Linked DNA regions of Homo sapiens: regions 1 and 2 are each linked to region 3. The links come from fine-mapping of genetic effects on gene expression. A gene starts in region 3. Each other region holds a variant in brackets. All regions are shown on one strand. Distances are between the middles of the regions.

What was found. PIP is the estimated chance that this variant, and not a neighbour inherited with it, causes the effect.
Region 1: its variant is the best candidate, but not a certain one, in a credible set for the expression of CRELD1 in whole blood (INTERVAL, PIP 0.66).
Region 2: its variant is the best candidate, but not a certain one, in a credible set for the expression of CRELD1 in adrenal gland (GTEx, PIP 0.53).

The regions. Positions count from the first base shown.
Region 1 is chr3:10,127,168-10,135,347 of GRCh38, forward strand. LOC124906357 (small nucleolar RNA U13) reads left to right here and starts at 6,218; the gene lies at 6,218-6,321. It overlaps BRK1 (BRICK1 subunit of SCAR/WAVE actin nucleating complex), which reads left to right. Exons shown (of 3, transcript NM_018462.5): 3 at 1-23. The variant G/GT (reference allele first, on the strand shown) is at 4,068.
Region 2 is chr3:10,014,502-10,022,681 of GRCh38, forward strand. It overlaps the pseudogene CIDECP1. Among named protein-coding and RNA genes, the nearest start is that of FANCD2, 7.8 kb to the right of the region's middle. The variant T/C (reference allele first, on the strand shown) is at 3,251.
Region 3 is chr3:9,930,511-9,938,673 of GRCh38, forward strand. CRELD1 (CRELD disulfide isomerase 1) reads left to right here and starts at 3,324. Exons shown (of 11, transcript NM_001077415.3): 1 at 3,324-3,410; 2 at 3,910-4,102; 3 at 4,325-4,407; 4 at 7,052-7,162; 5 at 7,505-7,596. The coding sequence starts at 3,929. IL17RC (interleukin 17 receptor C) reads left to right here. Exons shown (of 19, transcript NM_153460.4): 16 at 385-433; 17 at 2,098-2,193; 18 at 2,310-2,348; 19 at 2,443-3,111. The coding sequence ends at 3,083. RefSeq lists silencers at 2,296-2,355, 2,936-3,265 and an enhancer at 3,366-3,735.

The DNA.
Region 1 (8,180 bases), 200 kb after region 3:
AAAACATACAGCATTGAATCAGACATGATGCTTACAGTCTTTTGAAATACCAGCATTCACACAATTTAGCCACAATCCAAGGAAGATTATTAGTTTTATAAGGCACAAGCTAAGTGTCTACTCTTTGAAAAGCAGATAGCCGGGTTCAGTGGCTCAGGCCTGTAATCCCAGCACTTTGGGAGGCTGAGGCGGGTGGATCACAAGGTCAGGAGATCGAGACCATCCTGGCTAACACGGTGAAACCCCAGCTCTACTAAAAAAAGATACAAAAAAAATTAGCTGGGAGTGGTGGTGGGCACCTGTAGTCCCAGCTACTCGGGAGGCTGAGGCAGGAGAATGGCCTGAACCCGGGAGGCGGAGCTTGCAGTGAGCTGAGATCGCGCCACTGCACTCCAGCCTGGGCGACAGAGTGAGACTCCATCTCAAAAAAAAAAAAAAGTCTACCTCAAGCCAAATTTCCCCCTGAAAGTTCTCCTGGACTTGACTTTTTCATTTAGTATTGCCCTTTTCCTCTTCTCAGTTCCTCCCAATCCTACCATGCTGACACTGTGCTTCAGCTCTGGATTTGATCTTGATATGGATTTATCTCTGATTTAGCATGTGCATCCTAGAATAGAAACGAACATCTTTGGCCAGGTGCAGTGGCTCATGCCTGTAATCCCATCACTTTGGCTGGGTGGATCACTTGAGGTCAGGAGTTCAAGACCAGCCTGGCCAACATGGCGAAACCCGGTCTCTACTAAAAATACAAAAATTAGCTGGGTATGGTCGCAGGCACCTGTAATCCCAGCCACTCAGGAGGCTGAGGTAAGAGAATTGCTTGAACCTGCAGAGATTGCAGTGAGCCGAGATCACGCCACCGCACTCCAGCCTGCTGGGCGACAAAGCGAGACTGTCTCAAAAAAAAAGAAGTAGTTCTAAAGTTCAAGTTTTAGGTTATCTGGTGCCGTCAGTTTAAAAGACACATGGATTTAATAGCAGACAGGTGCTTAAAAAAAAAGCATTGAGTTCCTGCTATATGCAAGGACCAGCATGATATAGTAATAGTGGCAAAAGTGATGGTATACTAGGCAGAAAAAGCTCTTCTTTTTATGACATTACATGTGAAAATGCTCAGTACGTTTTTTATTGGCTTCTAGATATTAATTGGCTGGGCACAGTGGCTCATGCCTGTAATCCCAGCATTTTGGGAGGCTGAGGCAGGTGGATCACTTGAGGTCAGGAGTTTGATACCAGCCTGACCAACATGGTGAAAACCCATCTCTACTAAAAATACAAGAAAAATTAGCCAGGCATGGTGGTGCCTGCCTGTAATCCCAGCTGCTTAAGGGGCTGAGGTAGGAGAATCACTTGAACACAGGAGGCAGAGTTTGCAGTGAGCCAAGATCGCACCACTGCACTCCAGACTGGGCAACAAGAGCAAAACTCCATCTCAAAAAAAAAAAAATCTTAATTTATTGTTATTAAAATAATATGCTCTAAACGAGTTAGTGCCCTTAATAGTACCATACTGCTAGGTGTGGTGGTGTGCGCCTGTAATCCCAGTTACTCAGGAGGCTGAGGTGGGAGGACAGCTTGAGCCTAGGAGGTCAGCACAAGCCTCAGCAACATAATGAGACCCGTCTTTATTTTTTTTTTTTAATTTTTCTATTTTTTTAGTTAGCTTTTTTTTTTTTTTTTTTGAGACAGAGCCTTGCTCTGCTGCCAGGCTGGAGTGCTGTGGCACAATTGCGGCTCACTGCAACCTCCGCCTCCCGGGTTCAAGTGATTCTCCTGCCTCAGCCTTCCAAGTAGCTGGGACTACAGGCACACGCCGCCACGCCCGGCCAATTTTTTGTATTTTTAGTAGAGACGGGGTTTCACTGTATTAGCCAGGATGGTCTTGATCTCCTGACCTCGTGATCTGCCTGCCTCAGCCTCCCAAAGTGCTGGGATTACAGGTGTAAGCCACCGCGCCCGGCAGCTCTTTTTTTCTTTTTATGTCCAGCCAACTCATCATAATTTTTTTAATTATAATTTTTTTAATCTACCTTTTTTTTTGAGACAGAGTTCGAGACCAACCTGGGCAATGTGGCAAGACCCCTATCTCCACTAAAAATACAAAAATTAACTGGGCATGGTGGCATGCACCTGTAGTCCCAGCTACTCAGGATGCTGAAGTAGGATTGCTCAAGCAATTCGCCTAGGAGGTGGAAGCTGCAGTGAGCTGGGATTGCACCACTGCACTCCATCCCGGGCAACAGAGTGCGACCTTGTCTTAAAAAAAAAAAATCTTGAGTGGAAAATGAGCTAAATTTTAAATTTTCCTCTAAGCCATTCATAGGCACCTTCAAGGGAACCTCTTCATGCCTGTATACTTTGAAATGTTTTTTACCCTATAATTTGGTTTAATTCACTTATTTACTGAAAAGCTGAAAAGTAAGAGGTTTGAACCCATGAGCTATTAGGCATAGATTGCAAGTCCCTTGATAATAAAGCAGTTTTCAGTCTGTCTTTAAAAATTAAGCTTGGGCCGGGCGCTGTGGCTCACGCCTGTAATCCCAGCACTTTGGGAGGCCAAGGCGGGCGGATCACGAGGTCAAGAGATCGAGACCATCCTGGCCAACATGGTTAAAGTGGATTTCAGAAGCAGGAAAAAATAGGGAGCTTATTGTCTGGCTGATCGTTACAGAAGTACCCAGTTCTGTCATTCCACTCTTGCTACTCAGACCTTTAACTACCCATGTTTATTTCACCAAGCTAAAGAAGTATACTACAGGTTGATGATCCCCACTCCGAAAATCTGAAATGCTTCAAAATCTAAAACTTTTTGAGCACTGACATGGCACTCAAAGGAAATGCTCATTGGAGCATTTTGTATTTCGGATTAGGGATGCTCAATGAGTACGTATATAAGGTTGTTCCAAAAGTATTTCAGATTTCCAAATGCTGAAAAAATCCCAAATCCAAAACACCTCTGGTCCCAAGCATTTCAGATAATACTCAGCCCGTACTATAAGCCACACTAAGTAGAGTACAGGCCAGGCGTGGTGACTCACACCTATAGTCCTAGCACTTTGGGAGGCTGAGGCAGGAGAATTGCTTGAGCCCAGGAATTTGAGACCAGCCTGGGCAACATAGTGCGACCCCCCTCTATAAAAGCAGTTTTTAAATTAGGAGGGTGTGGTGGCACAAGCCTATAGTCCCAGCTACTGGGAAGGCTGAAGTAGGAGGATCGCTTGAGCCCAGAAGGTCGAGGCTGCAGTGAGCTATGATCATGCCACTGCATTCCAGCCTTGGTGACAGAGTGAGACACCATCTCAAAAACATGGTGTGGGGGCTGGGTGCTGAGGCTTATGCCTCCCAGCACTTTGGGAGGCCGTGGCGGATGGATCACTTGAGGCCAGAAGTTCAACACCAGCCTGGCCAACAGCAAAACCCTGTCTCTACAATAAAAAGAAAAATAGAAAAAATAAACAAATAAACATGGTGGTGGGGACAGGAAGCCTGTTGTTCATCTCTAGGCTCTTTCCCAGTATTTATACTCAGATTCATGCTGTTGCCTGCAAAAAAGGTTGGCCCCCAGTTGCCTCTGGATAATATGATTTAGAAAATTTGCTCTGGCAGTTTGCAGACAATTGCTGCCGTAAATAATTGTTCAAAACTTCATGGCTGGGTGCAGTGGCTCACACCTGTAATCCCAGCATTTTGGGAGGCCAAGGTGGGCAGATCGCTTGAGGTCAGGAGTTCGAGACCAGCCTGGTCAATATGGTGAAACCCCATCTCTACTAAAAATGAAAAAAAAAAAAAAATTAGCCAGGCTTGATGATGTGTGCCTGTAATCCCAGCTACTCGGGAGGCTGAGGCATAAGAATCGCTCGAACCTTGGAGGTGGAATTTGCAGCAAGTTGAGGTCATGCCACTGCACTCCAGCCTGGGCAAGAGAGCTGGATTCTGTCTCAAAACAATAATAACAGCAACAACAACAACTAACATCTAAAGGCCATATGACTGTCAACTAGATTATACAATAAGAAAGGCTGATTTAGAGTTCTCAGGTTTTGTTGTTGTTGTTGTTTGTTTTTTGT[G/GT]TTTTTTTTTTTGAGACAGGGTCTTTCTTTGTTACCCAGGCTGGAGTGCAGTGGCGCAATCTTGGTTCACTGCAACCTCTGTCTCCCAGGTTCAAGCGATTCTCATGCCTCAGCCTCCTGAAGAGCTGAGATTACAGGTATGCACCACCAGGCCCAGCTAATTTTTGTATTTTTAGTAGAGACAGGGTTTCACCAGGTTGGCCAGGCTGGGGTTTCTTTATTTAATTTTTCTTTATTTATTTGTTTTTTTTGTTTTTAGAGACAGGGTCTCACTATGCTGCTTAGGCTGGTCTCAAACTCCTGGGCTCAAGCAATCTTCCCGCCTTGGCCTCCCAAAGTGTTGGGCTTACAGGCATGAGCCACTGTGCCCGGCTGGTTTATTTTCTAATGAAAAGTTACCCTGGAGGATCACTGGAGGCCAGGAGTTTAAGACCAGCCTGGGCACCATAGTGAGACACCGTATCTGCTAAAAAAAAAAAAAAAAAAAAAAAAAAAAAAAGTAAAGTCACCCTGTGCACTAAATTGGCAAAAGATTAGGACTAGCAAGAATTAAAACTCACAGAACATTAGGGTGAGAAAGAATCTTAGAGATAATCTAGTCTGCCCCTGCCATTCTAGGAATATAGAAGCAAACCCAGACAGGTTGAGTGACAGACATGTCCATCCTGGTGGCAAAGCCAAAACTAAAACCTTATTCCCAGGTCAGTGCAGAGCCACTCAGAGTCTCATAAATAAGTTTTGTGTTTTCTGTACCATACCGGCCCTCTATTAGCCTCTCCCTGGATCTCACTGATACCTTGAGAGTGCAAAAAAGCAATTGTTCGTTACATTTATCTAAGTGGTGGTATCCATTGGCATCAACATTTGCATTTAGGACAAAGTTATCTTTGGCTCCTTTGAGCTTGCTACGACTATCAAGCGTGAAGTTTGTATTGTGCCTCAGCTGCATTTTCCAACCATAACAGTTTTTAAAAAAATAATTTTATTGGATAGGTGTGGTGGCTTATGCGTGTAATCCCATTACTCTGGGAGGCTGAGATGGGAAGATTGCTTGAGCCCAGGAGTTTTGAGGACAAACTGGGCAACCCAGAGAGACCGCCACCACAAAAAATAAACACAATTAGGCGGGTGTGGTGGTGCATGCCTGTAGTCCCAGTTACTCATGGGGCTGAGGTGGGAGGATCACCTAGGCCCAGGAGGTCATGGCTGTAGTGAGCCAAGATCACACCACTGAACTTCAGCCTGGGTGACAGAGCAAGACCCTGTCTCAATAAATGAATAAATGAAATGAAATGTTTCAATTCAATAAATGATAAATGCTTCAGTGTGGCTTTCACAAACATTTTGCCTAAGAAGTTGTTTATTAGCATTAAATACATTGTATGTCTATTATGTGTGAGGCACTGGAGATAAAATGAGAAACAGACAGTTTCTACTCTTAAGGAGCTTATAGTATAGTCATTTATTCACTGTATGTTCTCAAAGCAAAAGACACTAGAATGACATTTGCAGAAAAACCTCAGGAAAACACAACATACACAAAGGAGCAATGTGGTATCAACTTCACTGCATGATAAAGATACCATAGGCCAAAATTGTATTGTACATGGAAATGATGTTTGGGTTTTTGTTGCTGTTGTTATTTTTGTTTGTTTACCATTGTAAAAGTAATATATCACCACATATACATTATGGACATACACATGCATTTGAAAAGCATTAACAATTGGCCTGAATAAATATATAAAGAACTATTAAAACTCAGCAGTAAGAAAACAGCTAAATAAATGGACGAAATATTTGAACTGACACCTTGAAGACAAAAAACAGGCTGAGCCCGGTGGCTCACACCTGTAATCCAAGCACTTTGGGAAGCCAAGGCGGGTGGATCACCTGAGTTCAGAAGTTCGACATCAGCCTGGCCAACATGGCTAAACTCCGTCTCTACTAAAAATATAAAACTAGGCCAGTTGTGGTGGTGCACATCTATAGTCCCAGCTACTCAGGAGGCTGAGGCAGGAAAATCACTTGAACCTGGGAGGCGGAGGTTGCGCCACTACTCTCCAGCCTGGGCGACAGAGTGAGAGTCTGTCTCAAAAAAAAAAAAAAAAAAAAAAAAAAAAACAAGAATGGCAAACAAAATACAACAGAGTTTTTCATAGTTCATAAGCATGATGAGTGGGTTTTCATGTTCATGTGTGAGGTGTGCCTCCCTCAAACCTTGTTATGATGTCAACACATTGCCCATCTGATGTGAGAAGAAGTAAAAAAACAGTGAAAAGGCAGTTTACAGAATGGGAGAAAACATTTGCAAATCATACATCCAATAAGGAGTTAATATTCAAAATATATAAGGACCTCAATAGCAAGGAAACGATTTTAAAATGGGCAAAGGACCTAAGTAGACATTTCTCAACAGAAGACATTAAATGGCCAAAAGATAAGTGTTGGTGAGGACGTGGAGAAAACAGAACCCTCCCAGGTTCTTGGTGGGAATGTATATTAGTACAGCCATTATGGCAAACAGTTTGGAGGTTCCTGGAAAAACTAAAAATGGAATTACCATGTGATCCAACAATCTCACTTCTGGGTATATATACATAGGAAATGAAAATCAGTATTTTGAAGAGATATCTGCACTCCCATGTTCATTGCAGCACTATTCACAATAGCCACACTATGGAATCAAGTGTCCATTGCCAGACGAATGGATAAAGAAAATGTGCGCTGGGTGCGGTGGCTCATGCCTGTAATCCCAGCACATTGGGAGGCCAAGACGGGCAGATCACTTGAGATCAGGAATTTGAGACCAGCCTGGCCAACATGGCAAAACCCCATCTCTACTAAAAATACAAAATTAGCCGGGCGCAGTGGTGGGCGCCTGTAATCCCAGTTACTCTGGAGGCTGAGGCAGGAGAATCGCCTAAACCCGGGAGGCGGAGGTTGTGGTGAGCCGAGATCGCACCATTGCACTCCAGCCTGGGCAACAAGAGCGAAACTCCGTCTCAATCAATTAATCGATCAATAAAATACGTTGAACTCACAAAAGCAGGCAGTACAATGGTGGTTGCCAGGGCCAGGGGAGTTGAGATGAAACAGGGAGATATTGGTCAAAGGGTACGAGTCACCCTTTTGGTTGGGAGGAATATATTCTGGACATCTGTTATACAGCATGATGACTATAGTTAATAAATAATGTATATTTGAAAATTGTTAAGAGTGTAGTTTTTTTTTTTTTTCTAAGACGGGGTCTTGCTCTGTCACCCAGGCTGGAGTGCAGTGGTGCGATCTCGACTCACTGCAACCTCTGCCTCCTGGGTGACAGAGCAGGAGCACTGTCATCTTGGACAAACACCACCACTTTAAGTTCCAGCTCCCTTTCTAGCCTCATACATTTCAAGGAAATCACTTCTCTTCTAACCACAAGCAGCCAGAAAGAGCAGACAGTAAAACACAGATAAGACAGCTTGGGCACAGAGGGAAGTAGGGGGAAAGTCTACTTTCCCCCTACTTGGGTAACTGGGTAACTGCCAAACTTCACCCTCATACAATGTGCCCCAGTAAAACAGTGGGCCTTAATAGGCACATTTCTTTCCCTCAGGTGCACTAAGATAGGGAAGCTAAAAGCAGACTCAGGGGACATGCCTGCAGCTGCAGAAAGATGTACGGGAACAGACAACTCTCCCGCCCAGGTAAGCACAACGAAGAGACACAGAAGCAGTCGAAGCCTCTGATAAACTCTCCCACCCTGAATCCTTAAAAACTCTGTAAGATTGTGCAGCTTCTGACCTAACTTGGTCAGAAATCCCTCCCAGGTTTGAAATAAACCTGTTGACTGTCAACCCACCCTTCATGTTTCTCTCCTTTAATTCTGACACTGGGTTCAAGCGATTCTCCTGCCTCAGCCCCCCGCGTAGCTGGGACTACAAGCACCCACCACCATGCCTGGCTAATTTTTGTATTTTTAGTAGAGACAGGGTTTCACCATGTTGGCCAAGCTGGTCTCGAACTCCAGACCTCAGATGATCTGCCTACCTTGGCCTCCCAAAGTGCTGGGCTTACAGGCATGAGCCACCGTGCCCAGCCAAAAGAGTAGATCTTAAATGTTCTCAC
Region 2 (8,180 bases), 84 kb after region 3:
TGTGCACAGGCCAGGCATGATGGTTCACACCTGTAATCCCAGCACTTTGGGAATCCAAGGCACTTTGAGAAGCCGAGGCGGGCAGATCTTTTGAGGCCAGAAGTTCGAGACCAGCCTGGCTAAGTGAAACCCCAACTCTACTAAAAATACAAACATTAGCCCAGCATGGTGGTGCACAGTCCCAGCTACCTGGAAGGCTGAGGCACAAGAATCTCTTGAGCCTGAGAGGCGGAGGTTGCAGTGAGCCGAGATCATGCCACTGCACTCCAGCCTGGGCAACAGAGCAAGACTCCATCTCAAATAAAATAGAATTACGTGCACAAGAGCCGGGTGTGGTGTCTCACGCCTGTAATCCCAGCACTTTCGGAGGCTGAGGCAGGTGGATCACCTGAGGTCAGGAGTTTGAGACCAGCCTGGCCAATATGGCGAAACCCCATCTCTATGAAAAATATAAAAATTACCTGGGCGTGGTGGTGGGTGCCTGTAATCCCAGCTACTTGGGAGGCTGAGGCAGAAGAATTGCTTGAACCCAGCAGGCAGAGGTTGCAGTGAGCTGAGATCGTGCCACTGCACTCCAGCCTGGGTGACAAGAGTGAGACTCTGTCTCAAAGAAAAGAAACAAAAAATTATGTACACAAATATGGACAGCACTGGCAAGAAGTGTGGCAAAAACACATGTGGTTCTCTTGTTTTGGGCTCAGACATGTGGCTGTGCCATTACAGACCCCCGGGATTTAGAATCCTCCTTCTGAAAGGCGTCCTGTGCACTCGTGAGCACCAGCCTGAACAGATGAAAAGGCTGAGCTGGAGGGGCTGGGACACAGCCCACCTTGACGACAGCTGCTCCTGGCTGTGCGGGGGGGTCTCCAGGAAAGGCCATTCTCCCACTAGGATCGCCAGGCCCTACTGAGGCTCAAGCTCCTTTGCTGTTTGGAATCTTCCCTCCCCAGCCCCCCAGCCTCATCAAAGGCTGCCTTTTCCTGTTCACTGACCACAGCTGCTTTGACTCCATTAGCCTCGAGCTCCTGGAAGAAAAGGAAGAACGTTGTTTTCCCTGGGCTCAATGCCAAGAGACCGTGGGCAGTTGCTCAAGATTCACTTGTGAAACTCCGGATCCCAGGAGGAGGGAAGCTTGGGACAAATACCGAGCCTCCCACCCCCACTCCAACTCTGTTACTGAGCACTTTACGGAAGGAGCACGTAGGCCCCGCCACAGCTTCGGCAAGGGTGGACTGGGATAGATTCTGTGCTAATACAAACATCAGGCCTCCCTGCCAGACGGCCCACCCCATGGAGCCAGCCTGACACCAGGCCAGCCTCCAGCCACAACTGCAAGAGAAGGAGAGCCCAGAATAGCAGGCCCTCTTCAGTGAGCTTCAGCAGCTTCACCCACAGGTTGCAGGGTTTGGGTCCGCTGCCAGAAATAGCTCCCAGACCATCTTTGGTAATACAGACCTTTGCCTTAGTATTTACTACATCCAAATAGGCTTTATAGTAAGAGTTGTAAAACGATTGGTTTTGTTTTATTTTTCGTTTTTTTTTTGTTTGTTTGTGTTTTTTTTTTGAGACGGAGTCTCACTCTGTCGTCCAGGCTAGAGTGCAATGGCACGATCTTGGCTCACTGCAACCTATGCCTCCCAGGTTTAAGCAATTCTCCTGCCTCAGCCTCCCAAATAGCTGGGATTACAGATGCCTACAAGCATGCCTGGTTAATTTTTTGTATTTTAGTAGAGAGAGGGTTTGGCCATGTTGGCCAGGCTGGTCTCCAGCTGCTGACCTCAGGTAATCCACCTGCCTTGGCCTCCCAAAGTGCTGGGATTACAGGCATGAGCCAGCACGCCCAGCCTAAATTCAGCCTTTCATGCTTGTCTTGAGTTGTCCAATATTGGAAAATGCCAGCTCACACTGATGAGAAGCTCCTACTCTTTGGGGCTACCTATGAGCCCACTTTGAAATCCCGAGGTTGAAAGTCCTGAACATGAAAGATAAGCTGTCTGGCAAGTTAGGATGGGCATTGACGGGGAAATGCCTTACAGCTTGAGTAGTACTTTTTCACCTAACCACTTAAATGGTTATTATAAAACGGGACACTGAGAAATTAGAAGAGTGACTTAATCCCACCTGCTCAATTGAAGCTCCTCTGATAGGTGAATTTAATTAGGAAATTGTTACTTATGGTATCAATTACATGGTCAGCTCAAGCCTCAAATTTAGCCGACTTTAGTTTCAAAATCAAATGCAATTTTTTTTTTTTTTTTGAGACAGAGTCTCGCTCTGTCGCCCAGGCTGGAGTGCAGTAGTGCGATCTCGCCTCACTGTAAGCTCCGCCTCCTGGGTTCACGCCATTCTCCTGCCTCAGCCTCTCCGAGTAGCTGGGACTACAGGCACCCGCCACCACGCCTGGCTAATTTTTTTTTTGTATTTTTAGTAGAGACAGGGTTTCACTGTGGTCTCGATCTCCCAACCTCGTGATCCGCCCGCCTGGGCCTCCCAAAGTGCTGGGATTACAGGCGTGAGCCACTGCACCCGGCCTGCAAATTTTTTTTTTTTTTTTTTTTTTATACTTTAAGTTTTAGGGTACATGTGCACAATGTGCAGGTTAGTTACCTATGTATACATGTGACATGCTGGTGCGCTGCACCCACTAACTCGTCATCTAGCACTAGGTATATCTCCCAATGCTATCCCTCCCCCCTCCCCCCACCCCTGCAATTTTGTTTTTTAAAGAGCCTGGGCTCTTGCTATTGTGCCCCGGGCTGGCCTTGAACTCCTGGTCTCAAGGGATGCTCCCACCACAGCCTGCTGAGTAGCTGGGACTGCAGGCACGTGTCACTGTGCTCAGCTTTTTTTTTTTTTCCCCCCTTTGGTAGAAAAACTATTATTTGTAATCTTATGTTATGGAGAATAGTTTGACAACAGATTCATCTCTTCCTTTAGCCCTCTCCAACCTTCCAGCTAGAACCCCACCCCAAAGAACACAGGCAAAGATACATCAGCATCAATAATTTATTGCAAACTCCCTAATATCACATGCTAGTATGCTTGCGAATTCACTCACGAATGTTCTGGGATGGGGGCCAGAAGGTAGAGAGCACCATGAAAGTACAGCCTGTGAGGCCGGACTGCTGAGGGGCAGACTTCATGCCAATGGAGGGACAGACTTCAGGACCAGTCTGGATGGGCTAAGCTACCTTGGGCAGGAAGGAGCTGGGCCAGGCCAGGAGCCTGAGGTTCTCCTTTGGCCAACCCA[T/C]CCCAGGTTTCCAGCCCCTCCTCCTCACTCAGGGTCCTGTGTGGTGAGGGAGGTGTCGGGAGGTTAGCGGCTCTACAGCTGCCAGGCTTGTGGCCACTACCAGTTGAGCGTGGGGCCCCTAGTCTAGTCCTTCACTGGGGAAAGCTAGGGCTTGGGCTTTCACTGCAGTATCTTCAGACAGGTCGGGATGAGGGATGAGGCCTTGCCCTTGGGGGGATGCCCGTCCTCTGTGGCATCGAGGAGCTGCTGCAGGTAACAGGAGGTGAAGCAGCACGTGGCCCGTGGCTTGCATGCTGAAAAGGGCCCAGTGGAGAGCTTCCCTGGGTGGAATGAGAGGGCACGCAAGTCAAAACCACGAAGTAGGTTGGGCGTAGTGGCTCATGCCTGTAATCCTAACACTTTGGGAGGCCGTGGTGGGTGAGTCACCTGAGGTCAGGAGTTTGAGACCAGTGTGGCCAACATGGTAAAACCCTGTCCCTACTAAAAACACAAAAATTAGTCAGGCCTGCTGGTGGGCGCCTATAATTCCAGCTACTTGAGAGCCTGAGGCAGGAGAATCGCTTGAACCCAGGAGGCGGAGGTTGCAGTGAGCTGAGATGATGCCACTGCACTCCAGCCTGGGTGACAGAGCAAGACTCTGTCTCAAAAAAACAAAACAAAACAAACAAACAAAAAAACCACCACCATCACCAACAACAACAAAACAAAGCTGGGCTCAGTGGCTCACGCCTGTAATCCTAGCACTTTAGGAGGCTGAGGCGGGCAGATCACTTGAGGTCAGGAGTTTGAGACCAGCCTGGCCAACATGGTGAAACCCCGTCTCTACTAAAAAATACAAATAAATTAGCCAGGTGAGGTGGCACACAGCTGTAATCTCAGCTACTTGGGAAGCTGAGGCATGAGAATCGCTTGAACCCGGGAGACAGAGGTTGAAGTGAGCTGAGATTGCACCACTGCGCTCCAGCCTGGGCAACAGAGCGTCTCAAAAACAAGTAAGAATAAAACATAAGTGTACACCTCCCTACAACCCATTATTCCCATGTTGGCCTGGAAGGGATTGGTTTCATTATGTTTGTTTTCTTCATTAATAACATTTGAATACCACTGAGGTGGTAGCACTAAAAGCATTTCATCAATTCTAGAGCAATGTGCAAATAGGAACAGATGCTGCAGATGGGATCAGGATTAGGGCGAGGACCTGCAATTCCACCTTAACTGAGATGCCCGGAACCTCCCTACTTTCTCATGCAAAACCCCAGCTCATTTCATATGGCTTTCTATTTTTCTACTACTACTTTGGTCCAGCCAGATTAATCTCCATAATGTGGCTCTGCCCTTGAGACACTCTGTTCTAGACTCTGAGGCCTTTCTAAGTCACCTGCAGTCTAGCTCATGTTCAGAGTGCTGGACATGAAGACATCCATGCCTGGCATGAGCATGTACTGAGAACTGAACCTGAATCAGGCAGGCCTAAGTCCTAATCCAGTCTTATTAGCTGGGTGAACTTCAGCAAACTGCTCTAGTTTTGAGCTTCAGCTCCCTCATGGGTAAAATGGGATTGCACCTGCCACCCAGGGTCATAAGGCTGAAATAGCATAAAGCAATTAACGTGGGGTTGGATATTTGAAAAGTAGGGGAAATGGGGAAGCGGGGGCAGGTTCAAGAGCAGCTGGTTGAATGCTAGACAACTTTGGCTAGGTGCACTGGCTCAGGCCTATAATTCCAGCATTTTGGGAGGCCGAGGAGGATGGCTTGAGGCCAGGAGTTTGAGACCAGCCTGGTCTAGTGAGACCTTGTCTCTACAAAAGTATTAAAGAACTAGCCAAGCATGGTAGCACACACTTGTGCTACTCAGGAGGATCACTTGAGCCTACGAGGTTAAGGCTGCAGTGAGCCATGATTGCACCACTGCACTGTAGCCTAGATGACAGAGTGAGACGCTGTCTCTAAAAAAATATAAAGAATGCTAGATAATTTTAATCAAATTCTTACCAAATCTGTTTGAAAGGGGAATGTGAGGGTCACTCGAGGTGTCTAGTCCTAAGTGAGATAGGGGAGTGGAAAATAAAAGGCAAAGAAATGTTACCTGGCTGTTGTTCAAACTTTAGTCTTTTATTAACATTCATTCAATAAGTGAATTTATGGTCTGACTGGGGTGTGGGTGGCAGAAAGACTTAGAACTATTCACATCTACACAAGAGAATACTTTATATTTTCAAGGTTATAACTTAGAAGTATACCCACTTCTCAAATTAAGGAACTGAGGCTGACAACCTAGCTGACCAGCCTTAAAAAGGAATGAAATTCTGAGGTCGGCCAGGCGTGGTGGCTCAGGCCTGTAATCCCAGCACTTTGGGAGGCCGAGGCGGGCGGATCACGAGGTCAGGAGATCGAGACCATCCTGGCCAAAACGGTGAAACCCTGTCTCTACTAAAAATACAAAAATTAGCCGGGCGTGGTGGCACGTGCCTGTAATCCCAGCTACTCGGGAGGCTGAGGCAGGAGAATCGCTTGAACCCGGGAGTCAGAGGTTGCAGTGAGCTGAGATCGTGCCATTGCACTCCAGCCTGGCGACAGAATGAGACTCTGTCTCAAAAAAAAAAAAAAAAAAGAAAAAAAGAAAGAAATTCTGAGGCCGGGCACGGTGGCTCACGCCTGTAATACCAGCACTTTGGGAGGCTGAGGTGGGCAGATCACAAGGTCAGGAGTTCAAGACCAACCTGGCCAGGATGGTGAAACCGTGTCTCTACTCAAAAAATACAAAAAAATTAGCCGGGCATGGTGGCGGGCTGCTCGGGAGGCTGAGGCTGCTTGAACCTGGAAGGCAGAGGTTGTAGTGAGCTGAGATCGCGCCACTGCACTCCAGCCTGGGTGACAGAGTGAGACTCCATCTCAAAAAAAAAAAAGGAATGAAATTCTGATCCATACTGCAATATGAACGACCCTTGAAAATCCGAAGTCAAGGAAGCTAGAAATGAAGAACGAGTATTGACTGACTCCAGTTCCATATGGTACTAGAATTGGCAAACATAGAAAGTGGAGTGGAGGCTACCAGTGTCTGGAGGAGGAATGGAGACTTAGTGCTTCAGGGGGACAGAGTTTCTGGTTAAGATGATGCAAGAGGTCTAGAAATGGATGGTGGTGATGGCTGGGCAACATTGTGAACGTACTTAATGGCACTGAATTGTACACTTAAAATGGTCCAAACAATAGATTTTATGCTATACATATTTACTATAATTAAAAAAAACCTAGTGATACCACTAAGTCACTAAACTGATTCCAGTCACCAGACTGTGTTTAGGTCGAAGTGTCCCACCTCCCCTAACTGGACTGAGTTTAAGGTCTGAGACCTTTTCTTTTTCTGAGACAGAGTCTTATTCTGTCGCCCAGGCTGGAGTACAATGGTGTGATCTCGGCTCACTGCAACCTTCACATTCCAGTTTCCAGTGATTCTCCTGCCTCAGCCTCCTGAGTAGCTGGGATTACAGCAGTGTGTCACCACGCCCGGCTAATTTTTGTATTTTTAGTAAAGACGGGGGTTTCACCTTGTTGCCCAGGCTGGTCTCGAACTCCTGACCTCAGGTGATTCACCTCCCTCGGCCTCCCAAAGTGCTAGGATTACAGGTGTGAGCCACTGCCCCCAGCTGGTCTGAAACTTCTTGTTCATAATTTTGAAATAATGCAGACTACTGGTGGTAGGTAGTCTGAGGTCAAGAGGTGGCATGAGATGGTAGTATCCTGGAAGAAGTAGCCGAGGAGGAAAATGGAACTCTCAGCCACAGAACCAGGCTCAAGCCTGCCACCCACTGTTGTCTCTGGCAAGCAGACCCACACAGCCTCAGTTTCCTCAACTGCAGATTGGGTCTGCAGGAGATCAACTAAGAAAGCAAGAAGGTCTGATATGTTCTAGCTACATGTGATCTGGTAGAACTCTTGGGATCCTGAGCAGGATTTCTCAGAAGCCCCATGTGAATAGAGATCGCCTGTGTCTTCATTTATTCTACAATCATTTAAATAACTACTATGTGTCAGCATTCACCAAGGTGCTGAAGGCCACAAAAATTCCTGCCCTCAGGGAACTTGTTCTATCTGGTATTTTGTTCATCTCTGAATCTGTAGTTACAGCATAGGGCCAGGCACACAGTGGGCACTCAGGAAACACTGAATGAAGGAACTGGAGAAGAATAGACTATCGGAAAGATGGACTAGCAGCCATGCTCTGCTGCTTGCAAGTTTTGCGGCTTTGGACTGATTCAATCACTTCAGCCTCAGTGGCTACATCCACCCAATGGGGAAGGATGCCCCAGGGCGCCACTGGAGCGGCAGAATTTGGGAAACATCACCATAACGGCATGCAGCTTCTAACCTCACATATTCTCATGCTTCCTGAGACACTTGGTTAGGCTTTCAAAATAAGTTTTAAGAAAAGTTCATTATATAGTACAAATGACTCTGGTCCATAAGACTTGCAAACTAATTCTGTCCTATGGAGGGAAGATTATTTCATCCCTCCCATCCCCATGGGAGAAAAAACCCAATTTTGTATGTATACATTTATCTCTTTTTTTCTTCTTTTTAGAGACAAGGCCTCATGCTGTTGCCCAGGCTGGAGTACACAATGGTATGGTCATATCTCACTGCAGCCTCAAACTCCTGGGCTCAGGCAATCCTCCCACCTAGCTGGGATTATAGGCACATACTACCACTGCTCCCAGCGTGCATGCCTCTCACTATGTTGCTCAGGCTGGTCTCAAACTGTGTGTGTGTGTGTGTGTGTGTGTGTGTGTATGTGTGTGTGTGTGTGTCTCTCTCTATGTTGCCCAGGGGTGTGTGTGTGTGTGTGTGTGCGCATGTGTCTCTCTCTCTCACTGTGTTGCCCAGGCTGGTCTCAAACTCCTGGGCTCAAGAGATCCTCCTGCCGTGTGTG
Region 3 (8,163 bases):
AAAACTAGCACTCACCTACTGTCTATTTAGGCTTATTTTATGTTCAGCCCTGGGAAAGTTAAGAGTAGAAGAAGCACAGTTCCTATCCCCAAGGAGCACACTGTTGGCTAGACACCCATAAACAGATAACCACACCTACAGGTGCTAAGTTTTGGGTTCCAGGGAGAGCTTCCGGGAAGAATTTCTTCCTATAAGCCAGATTTGGTATGGAAGAAGTCATACCCTAGTCAGTGGGCACAGCACAAAGGCAGAGCAGCTGCAGGAACCTTAGCCGGGAGATATGCATAGTTGATGCTGGGAATTTGGAGATCAGGCCACCAGAGCTTGGTGAATATTGGAACACCTGGCTGGTGCCCTGGATTTGGTTCTGTTTGTATCTTACAGCTATGGGACGATGACTTGGGAGCGCTATGGGCCTGCCCCATGGACAAATGTGAGTATTGTAAGAACTGCCTTTCCTTTCTGTACCAGGAGTGGGGATCTTGACAGGGACCACTCTTGGGCACAGCACATGCAATGGCCTTGTCCTTCCCTGAGATCAGATAAACAGAGGGTCATTCCTTCATTCACTCAAAAAATGATGAGAGCTTGCAGGGATCGCAGGAACACCAAAAATATAAATCCTTGCCCCCGCCCCACCCCTAGAAGACTAGCAAGACATGAGCCAGTCACTTACATTTAAAGTGGGAGCTACTGAAGCACCACCAAGTGTTCAGTGCTGTAAATGCATACAATGTGGACCTGACCTGGGTGGGGTGAGGGGTGAGGGGCTCAGGGGGAAGGTTCCAGCAAAACTCTGAAGACTGAGCTAGGGGAAGGGGGTAGAGATACAGGGTCTTGGACAGGCAGGTTTCTGTCATGAGATAAAGATGCAGGAGACATGTAGGGGATTTGGATCTTATGTTGAGAGCAGCAGGAGCTACGATCAAATTTTTATATATTTCACACACACACACACACATATATATATATATATATATATATATATATATACTTATTTTTTTATTTATTTTTGAGGCAGAGTCTCACTCTGTTGCCCAGGCTGGAGTGCAATGGCGCGATCTCGGCTAACTGCAACCTCTGCCTCCCGGGTTCAAGCAATTCTCTACCTCAGCCTCCCGGGTAGCTGGGATTAATAGGCGCCTGCCACCATGCCCTGCTAATTTTTGTATTTTTAGTAGAGATGGGGTTTCACCATCTTGGCCAGGCTGGTCTTGAACTCCTGACCTCGTGATCCGCCCGCGTCGGCCTCCCAAAGTGCTGGGATTATAGTCGTGAGTCACCGCACCTGGCCCAAATTTATATTTTTAAAAGATCTCTGAGGCTGTCATGAATCAATTCAAGGCAAATCAATTGGAGGTAAAAAAAAAAAAAAAAAGACAGGGCAGGGACACCAGGTAGTTGCAGACACCCAGGACAGCAAGATCAAGGGCCCAGCAACCCTAGCTTAGGGGAGAAAAACAGCTGACATTTTAGCACTTAAGATGCTCGGCATTGTGTTAAGTATGTATTAACACATTGTGTTAAGCTTTATATGTATTAATATATTTAGTCCTCACACCAACCCTATGACACAGGTACAACTTTACAGAGGAGAAAACTGAGGCAGAGGGTGACATTACTTATTCAAAGACCCCTAAACAGATGGAGCTATATTCATCCACTGGCTCTGACACTGTGCTGTGGACTCTGGGCAAATCATTTCTTCGTTTTTTGTTTTGTTTTGTTTTGTTTTGAGAGGAGTCTCACCCTGTCGCCCAGGCTGGAGTGCAATGGCGCGATCTCGGCTCACTGCAACCTCTGCCTCCCGAGTTCAAGCGATTCTCTTGCCTCAGCCTCCCGAGTAGCTGGGATTACAGGCGTGTGCCACCACGCCCGGCTAATTTTTTGTATTTTTAGTAGAGACGGGGTTTCACCGTGTTAGCCAGGATGGTCTTGATGTCCTGACCTCGTGATCTGCCCGCCTCGGCCTCCCGAAGTGCTGGGATTATATAAAGGCATGAGCCACCGCACCCGGCCCAATTCATTTCTGTTAAGTCTCAGTTTTTCTTCTCTGTGGAGGGTAAGTTTCTAACTCTTCTTCTCTGGGTCTCCCAGACATCCACAAGCGCTGGGCCCTCGTGTGGCTGGCCTGCCTACTCTTTGCCGCTGCGCTTTCCCTCATCCTCCTTCTCAAAAAGGATCACGCGAAAGGTGAGCGCTTCCCGGCTCCCCATTCCCCTGGGGGAGGACCAGAGTGGCTGTGGGAGTTCTCCGAGGGAAAGCGGCGGCCGAGCTCACTGGCTGCCTCCGCCCCTCTCCCCTAACAGGGTGGCTGAGGCTCTTGAAACAGGACGTCCGCTCGGGGGGTGAGTGGGAGCAAGCGCTGGGCGGAGGGCCGCCCCCGGGGAGCCAGGCCTGTGCCAGCTCACCTCTTCCCTCCCCATCTGTTTTCTCCGGCAGCGGCCGCCAGGGGCCGCGCGGCTCTGCTCCTCTACTCAGCCGATGACTCGGGTTTCGAGCGCCTGGTGGGCGCCCTGGCGTCGGCCCTGTGCCAGCTGCCGCTGCGCGTGGCCGTAGACCTGTGGAGCCGTCGTGAACTGAGCGCGCAGGGGCCCGTGGCTTGGTTTCACGCGCAGCGGCGCCAGACCCTGCAGGAGGGCGGCGTGGTGGTCTTGCTCTTCTCTCCCGGTGCGGTGGCGCTGTGCAGCGAGTGGCTACAGGATGGGGTGTCCGGGCCCGGGGCGCACGGCCCGCACGACGCCTTCCGCGCCTCGCTCAGCTGCGTGCTGCCCGACTTCTTGCAGGGCCGGGCGCCCGGCAGCTACGTGGGGGCCTGCTTCGACAGGCTGCTCCACCCGGACGCCGTACCCGCCCTTTTCCGCACCGTGCCCGTCTTCACACTGCCCTCCCAACTGCCAGACTTCCTGGGGGCCCTGCAGCAGCCTCGCGCCCCGCGTTCCGGGCGGCTCCAAGAGAGAGCGGAGCAAGTGTCCCGGGCCCTTCAGCCAGCCCTGGATAGCTACTTCCATCCCCCGGGGACTCCCGCGCCGGGACGCGGGGTGGGACCAGGCGCGGGACCTGGGGCGGGGGACGGGACTTAAATAAAGGCAGACGCTGTTTTTCTACCCATGTGGCCCACACGCGTCTCCGTTTCAGTGGCGGGGCTGGCAAACGTCATTCCCTAGCCCCGCGGCCCTTTAAAGCCCGGACAGGTGCAGCTCGGTGCCGCCTCTGGTTGGCTGGCGTGGGGTGACGTAATGGCACATGGCCCGTCGCCATTGGCTGGGCGGCAAGCTCCGCCCCCTGGACTGCGGCGCGGGTGGGGGTTGTGCGTTTTACGCAGGCTGTGGCAGCGACGCGGTGAGGAGACGGCCCACGGCGCCCGCGGGCTGGGGCGGTCGCTTCTTCCTTCTCCGTGGCCTACGAGGGTCTGGATCCTTCTCTGCCGGCTCGTGGGCCGTGCCTTTGCCCTTCTGCGAGGCCCTGAATCTGATCCCTTCCCTTCATATCCGGATCCGGGCTCCTCCCTCCAAGCCCGGGGTTCCGGACACCTCCCCCAAGACAACCCCTCTGGCCTCCTCTCCTTCAGTACTTGGAATCTGATCTCTTCTCCCTAATTCTGCGGATCCGGCCCCTAATATTCTTTATCAGACCCTCAGACAAGAGGCTGACTTCTGCCCCCTTGTCAAGGAGCGAGGCCACTTTCCTCTCCACCCCATGCTAGCGAGGATAACTTATTTCTCTTCTGGAATTGCATCTTATGCGCCTTTCCCCACCCATCCCCACAGCCCCTGCAATACCCAGTTTGGCCTCTTTTGCTTGTAATAACGCAGATCCCAGCGCCACGGCACCTTAGAACAGACCTTTTTCTTTCTCGCGTGGGGCCTGACTCCTTCAGTGAAGCCTCTCCACGCCCTCTATCTGCAGGTCCCCAGCCTGGGTAAAGATGGCCCCATGGCCCCCGAAGGGCCTAGTCCCAGCTATGCTCTGGGGCCTCAGCCTCTTCCTCAACCTCCCAGGACCTATCTGGCTCCAGCCCTCTCCACCTCCCCAGTCTTCTCCCCCGCCTCAGCCCCATCCGTGTCATACCTGCCGGGGACTGGTTGACAGCTTTAACAAGGTGGGTGCACCGGCAGCCTCGTTAGAGGGGAACACAGCGATTTAGAGTGGGGAACTCTGGGATGCAAATCTGCGTGGATTTAAGTTTCATCTTGGTCTCTTACTAGTTGTATGGCCCTAGGCAGGTTGCCTTTCTGTGCCTCAGTTTCCTAGTCAGTAGAACAGTGAAGTGCTAGCATGTGCCAGGCACTGTACTTAGCTATTACTAATTTTCTGTTTCCAGGGCCTGGAGAGAACCATCCGGGACAACTTTGGAGGTGGAAACACTGCCTGGGAGGAAGAGAATTTGTCCAAATACAAAGACAGGTAAGGGGCTGCTGGGGGAAGGGGTGTATATTCCCCTCCCCGCCAAATCTCTGCTCTGCTGGTGTAGGGCTAGGAACTCTTGGGGAGCACTTATTCATTCAACAAATAGCACTGAACATCTATAGTATAGCAGTAAACAAGGCAAGCAAAATGCCCCCTTCCTGGAGCTCACATTCTAGTAGAGAAGACAAGCAGTGAATGAGTAAGTGAATAATATTATGTCAGATGAAGAACAAACAGTGAAGCACGGTAGACTGCAGGACGGTGGGAGGCAAGGTGTTCAAGGTTTGGCATTTGAACAGAGAGACAGGAAGTGAAGAAGCGAGCTATGTGACAGGGAGGGAATTGGGCAGAGGATGGGACTGAGCTTGGTGTATTTGAGAAGTGGCTGGAGTGGAGTGAGCCAAGGGGAGAGTGCTAGAAGGTGAAGGCAAAGGCTTAAGCCTCGAGGGCTACAGAAAAGAGTTTAGATTTTTTTTGGAGTGTAATGGGAAGCTCTTGGAAGGCTATGAGCAGAAAAAGTGATACTGTCTTCTCTACACCTTTAAAGATTACTCACACTGCTATGTAGCAAACGGATTGTAAGGGGCAAGGGCGGAGGAAGCAGGGAGACCAGTTTGGGAGGCAAGTGCATCATCTAGGTACAAAGGCAACACAAGCTAGTGTGGTATCTAGTGGAGGACATGATGAAGAGGTCACAGTCTGGGTATATTTTGCAGAGAGAACAATAGGACCTGGTGATAGATTCATTATGGGTATAGAGAAACAGTAGAATAAAAGATGCTTACTAGATTTTGGGCCTGAGCAACTGGGTGAGTAGTGCAGCTGTTTTCTAAGATGGTGAGATGCGAAACCGAGAAGGTTTAGGGGAGGGGTGGGATGTGGTGTTCTTTGAACGTATTGGGCTGAAATGTCCATTAGACATCCAGGTAGACTCCATACAAATCTGGAATTCAGAAAAGAGTAGGAATTGGAAACAGGAATTTGAGAGTTGTCATTATATAGTCAGTATGTAAAGAAAGCCATGGGAAGGATACAGAAAGCCATTATATAGTCAATATATGTAATACAGAAAGCCATTTATATAGTCAGTATGTAAAGAAAGGCATGGGAAGGATACAGAAAGGCGAGCCCTGAGCCCTCCAGCTTTTCAAAGTCAGATGGAAGAGGAGTCAGCAAAGGCTCAGAGTTAGACCTGGTTGTCGGTTCTTAACCTCTCAGAGCCACAGTTTCTTCACCTGTAAAATGGGGATATTAATACCTGGTTTGCCTATTTCATAGAAGTGTGGAAAAGGCTTAACTGGGATGCCCACTAGAAATAAAGGTTTTGTTATTATGTAACATTGGTCATTTTCTCTTTTCCTTCGCCGGGCCTGAGTTTCCTCATTCAGGAATGAGGGGATTGGCTAAGACAACCCCAGAGGCACTTCCAGCTTTGTAATGGCTCCTGCGTTGCTTGCTTTTTTAAATCACCTCCTATATGCCAGGCACTGTGCCAGACCCTTTAAATACAGGATATAAGACATCAAATATTTATATATGTGTGTATATATATGTGTGTGTGTATATATATATGTGTGTGTATATATATGTGCATATATGTCTGCGTATATATATGTGCGTATATATATGCGTATATATATATATATATGTATATATTTGTGGTAAAATACACATAAAAAATTTCCCATTAAAGACATTTAATAATATTTACAATGTTGTGTAACCATCACCACTATGTAGTTCCAGAACATTTTCATTACCCCCCCAAAAAATCCTATACCTATTACACAGCCACTCCCTATTCTCCCCTTCCCTCGGCTCTTGGCAATCACTAATTTGTGTTAGTCAAGCAGAAATTATGGATTTGCTGATTTCATTGGAATCATAAAATATGTGGCCTTTTGTGTCTGGCTAGTTTCACTTAGCATAATGTTTTCAAGGTTCACCCATACCGTAGCATATATCAATACTTATTCCTTTTTATGGCTGAATAATATTCTCATTTGGCTGTACCACATTTTGTTTAACCATGCATCAGTTGATGGACATCTGCATTGTTTCTACCTTTTGGCTGTTGTGAATAGTGCTGCTATGAACATTGTCTACAAGTTTTCGTTTGAACACCTGTTTTCCATTCTTTTGGGTCTATATCCAGTAGTGGAATTGGCAGGTCCTATGGCAATTCCATGTTTTACTTATTGAGGAACTGCTTTTCCACAGTGGTGATGCCATTTTGTATTCCCACCTGCAGTGTGGGAGGATTCTAATTTCTCCACATCCCTGCCAACACTTGTTATAGGATGTATTTTTAGCCATATCTACCCAGCAAGGGTATTATATTCCATTGCTCAGATGCAGGAACTGATGTATGTTACAACAAACCTGCAGGGAAGGTATTGTCATCCCCATTTTACAGATGACAAAACAAAGAGGTTCAGAGAGGTTAAGTGACTTGCCCACTAGATCTACCACTAGATTTGAACCCAGGTCTCTCTGCTTCCCAGAACCATGACCCCTTCCATTATACCTCATGGCCTCTCCTTTGATATTTTCACCGCACGAGGAAGGGTGGAGAGAGACTTGAGGAGGGTGGTGGGTGGGGTGGGGCATGTTTCCCACCAGCCCTGCCCTGTCCGATCAGTGAGACCCGCCTGGTAGAGGTGCTGGAGGGTGTGTGCAGCAAGTCAGACTTCGAGTGCCACCGCCTGCTGGAGCTGAGTGAGGAGCTGGTGGAGAGCTGGTGGTTTCACAAGTGAGTGGCAAAGGGCCTTCCCTGGAAGTGGGTCACAGGTGAGGCCTGGTGATAAGGCCTGATTTGGCCGAGAAGCAGGGGGGTGCATGCTGGGGCCCATGTCCTGGTTGTGCTCCTTCCAAACCCAGGTCTGCTAAGAACTTGCCGGGGGACTTGCGCTCCACTTTGAGCCTCAGTTTACCCTTCTGCCAAATGGGGAAAGGGCATTGGTCAGATGGCCTTTTGGGTCTTATGTCCAAGCTGGGTTGAATCACAGATTCAGGCATGGGGGAATGGGAACAGCACTTATGACACTATCTCAGCACCTCCTCCCCACCTCCCTCCACCCTGCCCCTGCCTCAGGCAGCAGGAGGCCCCGGACCTCTTCCAGTGGCTGTGCTCAGATTCCCTGAAGCTCTGCTGCCCCGCAGGCACCTTCGGGCCCTCCTGCCTTCGTGAGTTTTTAAGTTGCTCTTGGGGATGGGAGGGGACCACCGAGTCCAGGGATCCAGTCCTGGCTCTGTCCCTAGTTCGCTGTGTGAACTCAGGCTACTCAGATAAACTTCTCTGGACCTCAGTTCTTGCCTGCCTGACAGGGCTGGGGAGATGGGCAAATCAGTGGGGAAAGGCTTGGAGAAAGCACAGGGGCTAGACTGAGTCATATGCAGTATAGTTATCATCATGTACTAAAGAAATGATAGACTTCCCAGCCCCTTCATTTCCCATGCCAGATCGGACTATGGTACCTTCCTGGGGAGGGGCGGGTGCTGACCTGGAGCCTCCATGATCGCCATCCATCCTCACACACAGTCCTGGCACAAGAGCTGAACTTACTACCAGCCTCTTTTAGAGCAGTCTTTCCTGAAGCTACAGATAAAGAGCTAGCTACAAAGATGGCAAATTCAGTCTTTGTAAAAGAAAATATTGGCTGGGCGCGGTGGCTCACACCTGTAATCCCAACACTTTGGGAGGCTGCGGTGGGTGGATCATGAGGTCAGGAGATCGAGACCATCGTGGCTATC